Linked DNA regions of Homo sapiens: all the other regions are reported to be linked to region 1. The links are microRNA targets in miRTarBase. Many come from high-throughput screens and were not tested one by one. Region 1 holds a microRNA gene; each other region holds the end of a gene's coding sequence. Distances are from middle to middle.
Evidence for each region. The annotated mature microRNA hsa-miR-609 reads AGGGUGUUUCUCUCAUCUCU and lies in region 1 at 2,089-2,108, shown strand. An mRNA with a match to its seed (bases 2 to 7 or 8) in the 3' UTR can be bound and repressed. Matches are read on the target gene's strand: a 7mer-m8 pairs with bases 2 to 8, a 7mer-A1 pairs with bases 2 to 7 and ends in A, and an 8mer does both.

Region 1 (3,239 bases):
CACACACGCTCACTCATATAGAGTTAGAAAAAGTAGTGGTTACATAAAATTTCTAGGTTAGATATGTGAATGATTATCTTTCCAGAGGTCTCTAAAACCTTAGGACCTTAAACTTAACTGTTCTACCAGGGCATACAATCATAGCATTGAACATGTTCTAGAGTTTAACCTGTAAAAGCATGCCTGCCTTTATCACATCGAGGCTGTTAGTATGTATTATGACAACAAAGTTACATTCCCCAGGAGTGTCAGATATGGGGCAAAGCAAGGTACAAAGTCTGGTTTTTGTTCGAGGAGGCTTGCTGGAAAATGCTTCCCAGCATGATATGAGAAATCAAGCCAACACAATTTTTCTTTTTTCCAAGTTTCATTTTTTTTTTGTTCTTATAGCTACTTGCCTAAACTTATATAGTTGGTGAGTTGCTGAGTGGGCTTTAAACTCATTTGGTTTCTAAGCTCTTTTATAGCTTTCATTGATCTAAGGCACAATGGGAACCTGTAGTAGGGGCATCTCACATAGTCTGTTGGTGGAGGGGAATGGTCAGGGAAGGCTTCCTGGAAGGAGAGGTAATGTTTAAACAGATACTTCTATTAATTAGCTAGGCCTGCCATAGCAAAGTACCACAGACTGGGTGGCTTAAACAGCATGCGTATATTGCCTCCCAGTTCTGGAGACTAGAATTCTGAGATCAAGGTCTCAGCAGGGTTGGTTCCTACTGAGGGCTGTGAGAGAGAATCTGCCCCCGCGCCTCTCACCAACTTCTGCTCACTTGTTTGCTGGCAGTCCTTGGCTTACAGACACATCACCCAGATCTCTGCTTTTATTTTCACATGGCATTCTCCCTGTGTGTGTCTGTCTCCAAATGTTCCCTTTATATAAGAACACCAGACTTATTGGATTAGGGCCCATCCTAATGACTTCATTTTAACTTGATTACCCTCTGTAAAGATCATATTTCCAAATAAGGTCACATTCTGAGGTGCTGGGGGTTAGGATATTAACACGGGAATTTGGGGGAGGCACAGTTCAACCCATAGCAATACCTAAAGGATGAACAGGAATCAGCCTTGTGACGAGAAGAAAGAACATCCTAGGCAGAGGAATGGCATGTGCAAAGGCCATGAAGTAGAAAAAGCACAGCAGGTTTCAATGAAAAGGTCATGATAACGGGAACAAGAGATTTGCCATGAGAGAGGCAAGCTTGGAGGGACAGTCAGAGGTGAGCTTATGAGCAGCCCTATATGTAGGTGACCATGTGGTTTATCATCCAAATCAGGATGCTTTTGAGAGTGAAAGAGGGTGTTGCTGATGAATGCAGGGCACTTTAGCCTAAACTGGGTTTCTCCTAGGCATACTGGGAAGGATACTCACACTCCATATAAGCTAGGCTAATGGACAAATTCTTTATCCTAAAGGCAGTGGGGAGCTACTAAAGGGTTTTAAGCAGGGAAGTGACACAATTATATCTGCATTTAAGAAGATTCCTTTCAGCCAATTATTTCCAATGAAAGTATCTCCAATACTTTCGTACTGTGGAAGGTATATTGGAAGGAAACAAGGCATGAACATCAATTAGGAGGCTGTGGTGGTCCAGGTGAGAGATGACTGTGTCATGGACTAGGGTGGGAGTAGGGATGGAGGGAAGTGAAACTATTTGGGAGGTGTTTAGGAGGTAGCATCATGAGACTTGTAACTGACTAAATATTGGGTGTCGTGCTGAGGAAGAGGGATGGGTCTAGGGTTATATCCAGAGTTGCGTGTGACTTGGGCAACTTAGGGACACTCTGATGCTATTCAGAGAGATACTGAGGGCTTGGGGGCAGGGAATTTAGGGGAGGCAATGGGGGAAGATGAGCTGGGGGACAAACTGAACTGAGAGTGCTTGAGATGAACAAACGGAGATGTCTAGTTGGCAGCTGATATATCAGTTAGGACTTAGGTTCATTTGTGGTCACAGAAACCCAAATCACCAACATGTGTTTCCTTCTGTCACATGCAGTTGTCTGGGCACGAGCAGCTGTGGTTGGTGTGGTGGCTCCTCGGGGTCAGCGTCCAGTCTCCCGCTGTCATGCTGCTCGGCTGTTCCTAGGGTGTTTCTCTCATCTCTGGTCTATAATGGGTTAAATAGTAGAGATGAGGGCAACACCCTAGGAACAGCAGAGGAACCCTAAACCACCGGTGTATTTTGGGAGCCAATGGGGAGGGAAAAGGATGAGGGGAAGGGCACAAACCTTCTGTTGAAATGCAGGGCTTGCATGAAAGAGATCATTGCCTGACCCAGGGACTACCTCAAGGGCTTTTGGTGAGGACAAGTGACAGTAGGAAGATGCAAGAGCCTTTAGTACCAAGGTTCTCAACACTGACTACATGCTGGAATGACTTGTGAAGCTTTTAAAAAATGTTAGTGCCCACTCTTCCCCTCTCCCCTCGGCCAGTTAAATCAGAACCTCAGAGAGCAATGTGCCTTGAGATGCCTTGAACCACTGCTTGAGAAGGAAGGACAAACACATTATTACCTTGGAAGAATTGCATAAGGCTTATGACTTGAAAAAAAATTCTTTTTGGAAACACAAGCATTTCTTTCCTTTTTTTTTTTTTTTTTTTTTTTGAGACACAGTCTCACTCTGTCACCCAAGCTGGAGTGCAGTGGTGCGATCTCGGCTCACTGCAACCTCTGCCTCCCGGGTTCACGCCATTCTCCTGCCTCAGCCTCCCGAGTAGCTGGGACTACAGGCACCCGCCACCACGCCCAGCTAATTTTTTGTATTTTTAGTAGAGACGGGGTTTCACCGTGTTAGCCAGGATGGTCTCAATCTCCTGACCTCATGAGCCGCCCGCCTCAGCCTCCCAAAGTGCTGGGATTACAGGCGTGAGCCACTGCGCCCGGCCTTGGAAACACAAGCATTTCTTTAAGAATGACCAGGTGTTGCCATATGTATTTACGGCGCAAGCAAGTGTTGTCTAAGCAGTTTCTCTGTTTGCTTGTCATAGCAACATTTAGAAACTCGAACATGCTTTCATTTATGTAAATAGTTTATGAAGCTTTGACAACAAATGTAAACAGACCTGAAATTATAAATCTGCTAAATTTGTATTAAGGGTATTAATTATTGAGAGAAAGTCCCCTTCCTCCACACTCAACTCCTATGGCAATTATGAACTCCATTTTACCCAGAACACTTAAGTGCCTCAGCATCTGTATGATACAGTGGAGCAGGTGCTGGCATAGGTACCAGCT
Region 2 (3,000 bases), not on the chromosome of region 1:
CAATCAAATGCCAGTGGAAGTACAAACTGAACTTCTAGAAGCAGATTTGGACCACGTGACCCCAGAAATCATGAACCAAGAGGAGAGAGAGTCTAGCCAAGCAGATGCTGCTGAGGCTGCCAGGGAAGATCACGAAGATGCTGAGGATTTAGAGACCAAGCCAACAGTGGATTCTGAAGCAGAAAAGGCAGAGAATGAGGACAGAACAGCTCTGCCAGTTTTAGAATGAAATTACACATGAATATATTTTTAAATTTACTTGTTGGGTTTTTGAACTGATTATGGGCAGTTTGACTGTCCTTAATTAAGCCTAACAGACAAGTGGACCAAAGTTAAGCTGTTTCCTGTTGTGCTGAACTGTTGTCCGTTGAAACACATTGATTCCCCTCCCCCTACTTATTGCCACAGAGGAGGGATCTTTTCCATAACTGAAGGGGAGTTTTGAGAAGTATATTTCTGGAAACTTAAATGGATTATATTCTTATTATATAGTTGGGTACGAATGTATCTATTTTCATTGTGGTAAAAGTTCTTCCTTTTCTCTTTCCCAGGTCATGTTCTTCCTCAAATTTTTTCCATATTGTAAAATCAAACTTAAATCATTAGAATACAAGTTTATGTATTCTAATGCATGTTAGAAAATTGAATAATATAGGAAACACAAGGCTGCATGATGAAAAGTGCATTGTTACTGTGCAGTTAAATTTTGGCTTCTGGCTTTCTTTAGTTTGAACAAACGTTCTTGTCTACCCCAGTAGTCACAGATGCCATCTTTGCAACAGAAAGAGTGGTGGTGGCAAAATTTCTAGAATGTTAAAAAAAAAAAAAAATCCACACCCATGTGCCTTCTCAAAACCAACTGAACTTCTATAAAGCATCTCTGGTTCTTTCAAAGTTTGTGTTGTAAGGAGCAATGTAGATGATGCTATAATACTTTATATTTTTGGTTATAATGACAACCACCAGTTCTTTTTCACTTAAGTTAGGTTGAGAAATTTTATTTAATGGCCACTGAAGGGCCATTTTCAATTGGGAAAATTTATTTACATCTGTGGTAAACTTTATTTTGATGAAAAGTTGCACTAGTATTTTACCACCAGATGAGAAAAAGATGAGCAGCATTTAAAAATTAATGTATTTAAAATAAAGTACAGAGAAAGACATGTATATAATTATCAGGCTTTGTTTTGAATGGAATCTTTTCCCCCAATTCTTAATGTAAAGATCTTGTGCTATAACTTTTAAAGCCATACAAATAAGAGTGCTAAACTGTGGACTTAAAAGTAGGTGTGTAAATATTTTTAATCAGTATTACTTGGAAAATAAAATATAACAAACCCATAGACCAATATGCTATTTTTTTTACCTGTTAAATATTGGGAGTTCTTTACATTTTTTAAGTAAACTTTAAAATTATGTGTTCATGACTCTTTTTTAAAAAATTACCAGCGTGAAAGTTTATATCTGGGCAGAGATAGTTCCTCATGTGTCTTTACCCGTGTTAACATGACTGATGCATGAATTGTGATAAATTTTCCATCACACCTCCAACCCCCCAAAATCAGCTCAAAAGCATGGAAGTAGTTCATATTCTTTATGCTAATAGTTCTTACATGGTAGGCACAATAGCAGGAATTCTCCACTTAACTGTGTCAAATGTAAAAGACCAATGCGATTAGCCCCCTTTGGTAATCGTGACGTTAAATGGTATCACATTTACAAAAATACGCTGAAGAGAGTGGCTTCCCAGCATTGGAGAAGTCAGATTTAGATATAAATCTGGAGATAGAGCCAACCATTGTATTAAGGGGGCCACGTTTTTAAGATCAAAATAAGGGTATGAACACTTCCAAGTGTGTACTGTTTGGTAGTTGGGTATCTACTGCAAAGCTTATTTAACAGTATAGTTTTTATTTGAAATTGGAAAATACCAATAATATAATTAAATTATATCCCAGTGAATTTTCAGTTTGCCTTAGGATGCCAATGTTCCTGAGTTGTTTAAGAAAAAAAACCCTAACAGATAGTGGTCTCAAATATGTAAATTACTAGTTAGTATCTGGTGAATTTTGAATGCTGAAAATAGCGCATACTATGCCCTTAAGCTAAGGTATGAAACAAGGATTTTAAAACAAGAGTTCTGACCACAAGGTAAAGATCAAGGGCAAAGGTACATCAAAGTGTTAAAATTATTTGAGTTTTCACATTTGTCAAGACCTTTCGAGGTAGATTTGAGATGCAGATATAGTTCATTTTTCTTTTCCCAAAAGGTATAGAAGCTATCAGTGTACCCAGAATGCCAGTAAATTTGATTGCAAAAGTAGAGGAAAACTATCTACTGGTGATAAACTGTATGTTGAATAACATTTTGTAGTTGGAAAGCACTTTATGTAGAACATAAAACAGCTGTTAACAACTGATGTATATTTGCTTCAAGTACTGAAGCAAACTGGATATTTAGTCCTCCAGTGTTCTACTGTATTTGTACTGGAGTTTTAAGATAAGTCTACAGTATGAGGTACCAAGTTGGACAGTAGAGTGTGCAATGATGATCACATAGAAATAAGTCCCAAGTGCACTGAGAACGATGAGAGGCTTTTCTATCTCTACTCCGTTTCAACAGCAATTCTCAGACATCAATTGGGTGTCCAACAATTGAATCTGACACCACCCAGATTTAGAGCAAGTTAAGTGCTCAGTACCACAAAATTGCCCCCACTTCAGACACCAGCCACAAATGCGATCAACAGGCTACCCGCGCTTCTGCCCAGCCAACCGTAAATTTAGGGTTCTTATGGCCTTCCCATCCCCCCAAGTTCAATAATGCATTGAAACAACTCAGGAAAGCACTATACTTAACGACTACAGTAAGTATACAATTCAGGAACAGCCAAATGGAAGAGATGCATAGAGTAAGGTGGATGGAGGGGGTTGTGGAGGAGAATAGTAGAGGTTTCTCTGCCCTCACTTGGCATGCCACTTTCCCAGCATGTTGATGTG
Region 3 (3,239 bases), 17 Mb from region 1:
TCTAATCAAAATACGAGAAAATTAGCTGGGCGTGCTGGCACGCATCTGTAGTCCCAGCTGCTAGGAAGGCTAAGGCAGCAGAATTGCTTGAACCCAGGGGGCGGGGGGTTACAGTGAGCCGAGATCACGCTACTGCACTCCAGCCTTGGGGACAGAGCGAGACTCCGTCTCAAAAAAAAAAAAAAAAAAAAAAAAAAAAGAAAATTTCTGTCAAGGTAAAAAGAGTAATTGACCAGATTTTTAAAAACTAAAACCTTCAGGAGCCAAAATTACTGACACTAGTGCTCTCATCTTTATATAGCTAGCACAGGCAATTTAGTTTTCTAATATTACTATCAACAATACTCCTCAACATTAATCTTTAAAAAATTACCATTGGCCAGGCATGGTGGCTCATGCCTGTAATCCTAGTACTTTGGGAGGCCAAGGTGGAAGGATCACTTGAGTCCAGGAGTGTGAGACCAGCCTGGGCAACATAGGGAGACCTCGTGTCTACAAAAAAATAAAAACAATTAGCCAGGTGTCGTACCCATACATGTGGTCCTAGCTACTCAGGAGGCTGAGGTAGAGTAACTGCTTGATCCCAGGAGGTAGAGGATGCAGTGAGCCGTGATTGCACCACCGCACTCCAGCCTGGGTGACAGAGCAAGACACTGTCTCAAAAAACAAAAACCAACCCCCCAACCAAAAAAAAATCAGTATTTCCAATATATAGTCAAAGGCCACCACTAAGACTTATCCCACATTCACATGACTTAAATCTGCTGCCCCACCATTATTCTAACATTCTGGAACTGGTTTTTGTATCACTTTCCCCCTTACACATTTTAGTAGCCCACCTAGAGTGCAGATAGACACCACCATGCTGGGGAAGGGCTCACTATGCCCATATACTGGGGGCCTGTTTATCTGACTGACCCTATGCCAGGAGCATGCAGAGGCAGAACTGTGACATACGGACAAAGACCAAATGAAAGCCAGGCTTCACACTGGCAGTTAAGTAACTGGTGGAATCAAGTCTAGAATCCAGTTCTGATTACAGTTAGTATTCTCTCTTCAATAGTTGTTACATTCTGTGGCTAAATTATTCCACATTAAATCCCCTTTAGTGAAAAACGGCACTAAAAGTTACTTCACTATCAGCTTTCAACATTAGAGCCTCTTTCTCAAGAACAGCTGTTCATATTATTTAATAAAATACAAAATAATTCGAGAATAAAGACTATGCTTTCAGGGATCATTTCTATAGTTCGTTACTCGGGAAGTTTCTCTGAACGTGTAAAGCACCGAACAAAAAAAAAAAAAACAATTCAAGAATAAAATCTGGGCAGCTCACAATAAAGTGGAAGGAAATGTTATACAGGTGGTCGCTATAAACATTTCAGAAATCCAATTGCAGTATTATAACTTATGAAAAGAGAAACTACCACATGTAAAAACACAGAAAAGAAACGTAAGTTTTGGAAAACGTAGACTTTTAATAACTGCTTTTATCACCAGGTTAAGCCATGCAGTTACAAAGTAGTTAGAAATTTCTGAAGGGTGTTAGAGTTAAAAAAAAAAAAAAAGCTGACTCTTACACATATATTATCTAGCACTTCATGGGGACACTACTGTTCAAAAGGCCCTGGCCAAATAACTCCCAAATGAAACACTCAACCCAAGGATGTTTTCAGCCCACTGTTAGTGAAGCTGGGTGCAGAATGCAAAGCCTCTAAAAGGAGAGGATACAAAGTCAGGTGAGTAGGGGCCATTGGCAATGCTCAGAGCCAGCCAGACTCCAAACAGGGAGCCCAAGTGGTTTTTTTCTGGGACACTCTACTTGAATTATTGTTTAATTAGTCAACCATAGATCTTCAAAAGAGAACAATTAGTTAACATGATAAAAAGTGACTGCATTCTTTGGACTGTATCATAATTATAGTAAGCAAATTCTGACAGTTTTAATGAAAATAGCCTCCACCATTTTGCAGGTATGAAGATAACTTAATTATCCACAGGGCTTTTAATGTCTGCTGGACAATACATGAATGATAAGCTATAAATGACATTGTTTTATGATATAAAAATACTAGTTTTTTTCATTTATTATTTCTATAGGCATTCACTGTTTGAGTCAAGGTTAGGCTTGTTAAGTGATTAAAGGCAATTTTATTACAGCAGCATGTACTTATTCTATTCTAAAAGAATAATATTCATAAACAGAAACAGGTTTTATATTTGTTTGCAACCTGCAAAATTGAATTATTTTGCTGATATAAAATACTAAGAACTCACTTGAGGACCATGCCACCTTCTGAAAAGGCCACACACCTACTTCTTAAATGTGTTAAAGTTACAGTGTGTCCCAGACTCATCCAGAAAAAATAAGCAAGCAACTGACTGCTCTTGACTGTTCCTCCCCAGCACTAGCACTGATTGTGTTGGGAAAAGCCACAGAGCAAGGCTGCACAGCCAGATAAAGGAGGCTTTTTATTTAAAGGCAAAATACCAAAATGGCTCTCTGGTGTAGGTGATTTCTACTTTCACACTCAGCTTGTACATGATCCGCTAACCTTAATTTCTTTCTCCTTAACGGGCTGACTTGGATTGACTTGTTGAGAATGGTATCCATTATTAATGAGTCAGGAGAGAAAGGGATTTCTGTGGTTACATGTAAACTTGTGATAGGTCTGCAGAAGTTACATGTGAAGAGGATAGTGAGGAAGTCAGCCATGATCCATCTATGTGAAGGTCACACCAGCTTCATTGTACACTTTGAAGACTTTCTCAATGGCATTAACATAGGCAGCTGTTCTCAGGTCCAATCCCAGGTTATACTTCATGGCTGTGCGCATAATTTGCTGAAATGAAAGAGAAAATGCAGTGAAGATGATCCTGACTCAAGTGGCCAGGCCATAAACACACAAGGCCCAGACAGGCCTGGTCCAAGTTACCCTCTCATTGTTTCAAGGCAGGACTTGGGCAGCCAAAGACAAACTACTCTAGCAGCAGAACCTCTAGGCAGGAGGGCCTAATTCTCTGGACTTAACAATGGGGTGGCTGGGTGCGGTGGCTCACGCCTGTAATCCCAGCACTTTGGGAGGCCGACGTAGGCAGATCACTTGAGCTCAGGAGTTCAAGACCGGACTTGCCAACATGGTAAAACCCTGTCTCTACTAAAAATACAAAAATTAGGCAGGGGTGCGGTTGCTCACACCTGTAATCCCAGCACTTTGGGAGGCTGAGGCAGGTGGATC
Region 4 (3,239 bases), not on the chromosome of region 1:
TTTCAAGACTTAAAAATCAGGAGCAAAAAAGTTACATTTGGTGCTTCAACATTTTCTTATTTTACTTTCTAATTGTGTCAACATTTCCAGAAACTATTAGAAGGGTTATAGAAATGTAAGTATGCATTTATATACTTTATAAAATTGATTGAAGGCCGGTTGCGGTGGCTCACACCTGTAATCCCAGCACTTTGGGAGGCCGAGGTGGGCAGATCACGAGGTCAGGACGAGACCATCCTGGCTAACACAGTGAAACCCTGTCTCTACTAAAAATACAAAAAATTAGCTGGGCGTGGTGGCGGGCGCCTGTAGTCCCAGCTACTTGGGAGGCTGAGGGAGGCTGAGGCAGGAGAATGGCGTGAACCCGGGAGGCGGAGCTTGCAGTGAGCCGAGATAGCGCCACTGCACTCCGGCCTGGGCGACACGGCAAGATTCTGTCTCAAAAAAAAAAAAAAAAAATTGATTGAAAATCTACAGTGAAAACATTTTTGGAAAGCAAATTCAACAGCGAACACTTGACCATACCATTTGAGAAATGTTCTTTGTGTATTGACTGTTTTAGAAGAAAACAGCTTGATTATGGGCCAAAATGTTTATAATTTGACTACTGATTCAGACCAGTTAGCTCTTTAGATGACAGTTCTGTATGGATCAATTGGCTTCACTCTGTTTTATGGTTATAGTCTGCAACTACAGAATGGCCGATTAATCTTGGGAAGGGTAAGACAGGGTCAAAAGAAAGTCAGAAATCTATAAACCTTGCTATAGATTAAGCTTAGAATGCAAGTTCTGTTGACAAAAGTTTCTAGCATCAGCTGAGTATAATTTGGCTTCCGTCATTAGGAATGAGATAAATCCTAACTGTCCAACAGAAATATGGACTTGTTTCTAAAGGAGTTAAATATGTTTGACCTGAAAGTTTAAACCTATTACATTAAATGATTAAAGGGACCTTTTTTGGCAGTCTGATCAATGGGTTGCAAATGCTCTGCAGATGGGAGGTGACGATAGGAAGGAATTATGCAACATCATCCTTCCTCTAGTTTAGCAGGAAATATTTCTGGTAGGAAGACATACATGAAAATAGGTCTGCTGTGTAATGTCATTTTAGAACCAAACTTTGTTGGGTTAAGATGCTTTTACAGAAAACATCCTTTTAAAAACTTGGTACTGTATGTTTTAGTTAAGATAACACTTTTTGTGTCCTTGTTTGCTGAAAACGTTCAAGTACATAAAGAATTGTATTATTAAATTACCCACTGACAACAATTTCTTTAAAGTTTATATATTTGTGGGAAGGTCACAATTTACATACTTCCAAAAAACAAAATACCTTGGTTTATACATTGTCAAAACAGTCTGTAAAAATCAAAACAAATTGAAACAAAGGCAGAGATACTAGGCGAAAGAGGCAGAGACTTCCTATATACACTACAACTTCCTATTCAAATTTCAAAGTGCTTGTTTCAAGAGAACACATTTCTCACCTACTACCTTTAAACTAACATGCTTCTGGAAATGTGGTTTTCCTCCAAGGACAGGGATTCAATTTAGCTCAGCTCTGGCTCATTAGTGTGAATAAACAGAAGGGCTTTGCTTCAGGGAGGTAGACAGGAATCACAACAAGGCTTGACTTTAATGAGACCACATTACCACAGAGGTTCTCTTTTCCAGATGACTTCCAACATTGTCAGTGACAGTCAACTGTTGGGAGCAGATCTTGGGACAAACCTTTTAGGGAAAATGAACTAAATCAGCATGAGCCACTGTCAAGTTTAAGGTGACAGCTGAAGGCTGGGTGTGGTGGCTCATGCCTGTAACCCCAGCACTTTGGGAGGCTGAAGCAGGAGCATCGCTTGAGCCCAGGAGTTTGAAACTAGCTTGGGCAACATAGCAAGACCTCATCTCTACGAAAAAATTAAAGACTTAGCCAGGTGTGCACATCTGTAGTACCAGTTACTGGGCAGGCTGAGGCGGGAGGAAGGCTTGAGCCCAGTAGTTCGGGGCTGCAGTGAGCCATGATTGTGCCACTGCACTCCAGCCTAGCAACAGAGTGAGACCTTGTCTCTAATAATAATAAAAGGGGCAGCTGGAGTCCACCAAGAAGTATTGTCCATCAGGGATCTTTTCAGCAGGCACTAAACTGCTGGGGAAAGAGTTTCATCTTGAGCCTTTACAACAACAAACAACTTTTTTCTGTGAATCTGACTGATTGCCTAGGTAGAAATGTCCTTTTCGGTGGCCTCAGTGATACATTGATACTGTTTATGGTCATTTACAGTAAAGAAAATATGTCCTGCAAAGAGACAGACCACCAGAATATTTAGTTCTATGGCAAATACCTTATTTGAGGAGCTCATGAGCTTCATGACCAGTCACTTCTGGAGAGTGCAGGAGTTCAGAGTGTCCCAGCCCCTTTTGCTCTTCAGTGTTTCAAAATACATGTGTGGAGAAGCTGTTTTCTTGCAAAGAAGTTATGATCTCTGGATTGTCATGCCATCATTGGCACACAACTCCCCTCTGGAAGAGGAGCTGTTTGCCAGAAATATTTTCTCAGTGTGATTTATGGCATTCCACCTGGCTCTCTCCATCAGTCTCTACTAGCAGAGCCACTCCCAAATGACCCAGAGCCATCCTTTCCACTCCAATGGAGAGGCTTCCAGAACATGCTGCAGTTGGGTCCTTGGCATTGACTTGCAACTGAAGCTCCTCAGGAGTTGGTAGGAGGAAGTAGAGGGACTGGTGCCTGTAGCTCCTGGCTTTCCTCTCTGACCAACGCATAGCGCCTGGCTTTTCTAGGGTCGGGCTCTGGCGTCTCCTCTGCCCATCTCCCCACACGGCGCACACCTTTGGCCACCTTGGGTGCGTTCCTGCAAGGATTGTGGTCATAGATGACCAGCTTCAGACTTGACAGGTGCGCCAGGCTGGGGAAGTAACGGATGCTGTTCCAGTCCACATCAATCACCTCCAGGAAGGGCATGTGAAGCAGCACAGTGGGAAAGTCAGTTAGCCGGTTGCCCGAGAGCCAGATGGTCCTCAGCTCCTGGAGGCGCCGGAGCTGGCCTGGCAGCAAACGCAGGGCGTTGGAGCCGGCATGCAGAGTCTTAAGGAGACTCAGCTCACAGACCACATCCGGCAGCTGGGTGAGGCAGTTGGCCTCGATCCACAGGGTCCTGAGGTTCTGGAGCAGGCTCAGCTCACTGGGGAGGTCGCAGAGTTTGTTGTTGCCCAGGTAGAGG

Region 2: the mRNA of ZNF131 is a reported target of hsa-miR-609. Seed matches in the 3' UTR shown: 7mer-A1 at 834-840.
Region 3: miRTarBase lists GLUD1 as a target of hsa-miR-609. Seed matches in the 3' UTR shown: 7mer-m8 at 1,541-1,547.
Region 4: miRTarBase lists LRRC10 as a target of hsa-miR-609. Seed matches in the 3' UTR shown: 7mer-A1 at 1,796-1,802.

Annotation. Positions count from the first base shown.
Region 1 is chr10:104,217,718-104,220,956 of GRCh38, reverse strand. MIR609 (microRNA 609) reads left to right here and starts at 2,074; the gene lies at 2,074-2,168. All of the region lies in intron 3 of CFAP43 (cilia and flagella associated protein 43), which reads left to right.
Region 2 is chr5:43,174,905-43,177,904 of GRCh38, forward strand. It overlaps ZNF131 (zinc finger protein 131), which reads left to right. Exons shown (of 7, transcript NM_001330707.2): 7 at 1-1,418. The coding sequence ends at 229. Among named protein-coding and RNA genes, the nearest start is that of NIM1K, 16 kb to the right of the region's middle.
Region 3 is chr10:87,049,028-87,052,266 of GRCh38, forward strand. It overlaps GLUD1 (glutamate dehydrogenase 1), which reads right to left. Exons shown (of 13, transcript NM_005271.5): 13 at 1,175-2,843. The coding sequence ends at 2,724. Among named protein-coding and RNA genes, the nearest start is that of FAM25A, 30 kb to the left of the region's middle.
Region 4 is chr12:69,607,295-69,610,533 of GRCh38, forward strand. It overlaps LRRC10 (leucine rich repeat containing 10), which reads right to left. Exons shown (of 1, transcript NM_201550.4): 1 at 1,270-3,239. The coding sequence ends at 2,711. Among named protein-coding and RNA genes, the nearest start is that of LRRC10, 2.0 kb to the right of the region's middle.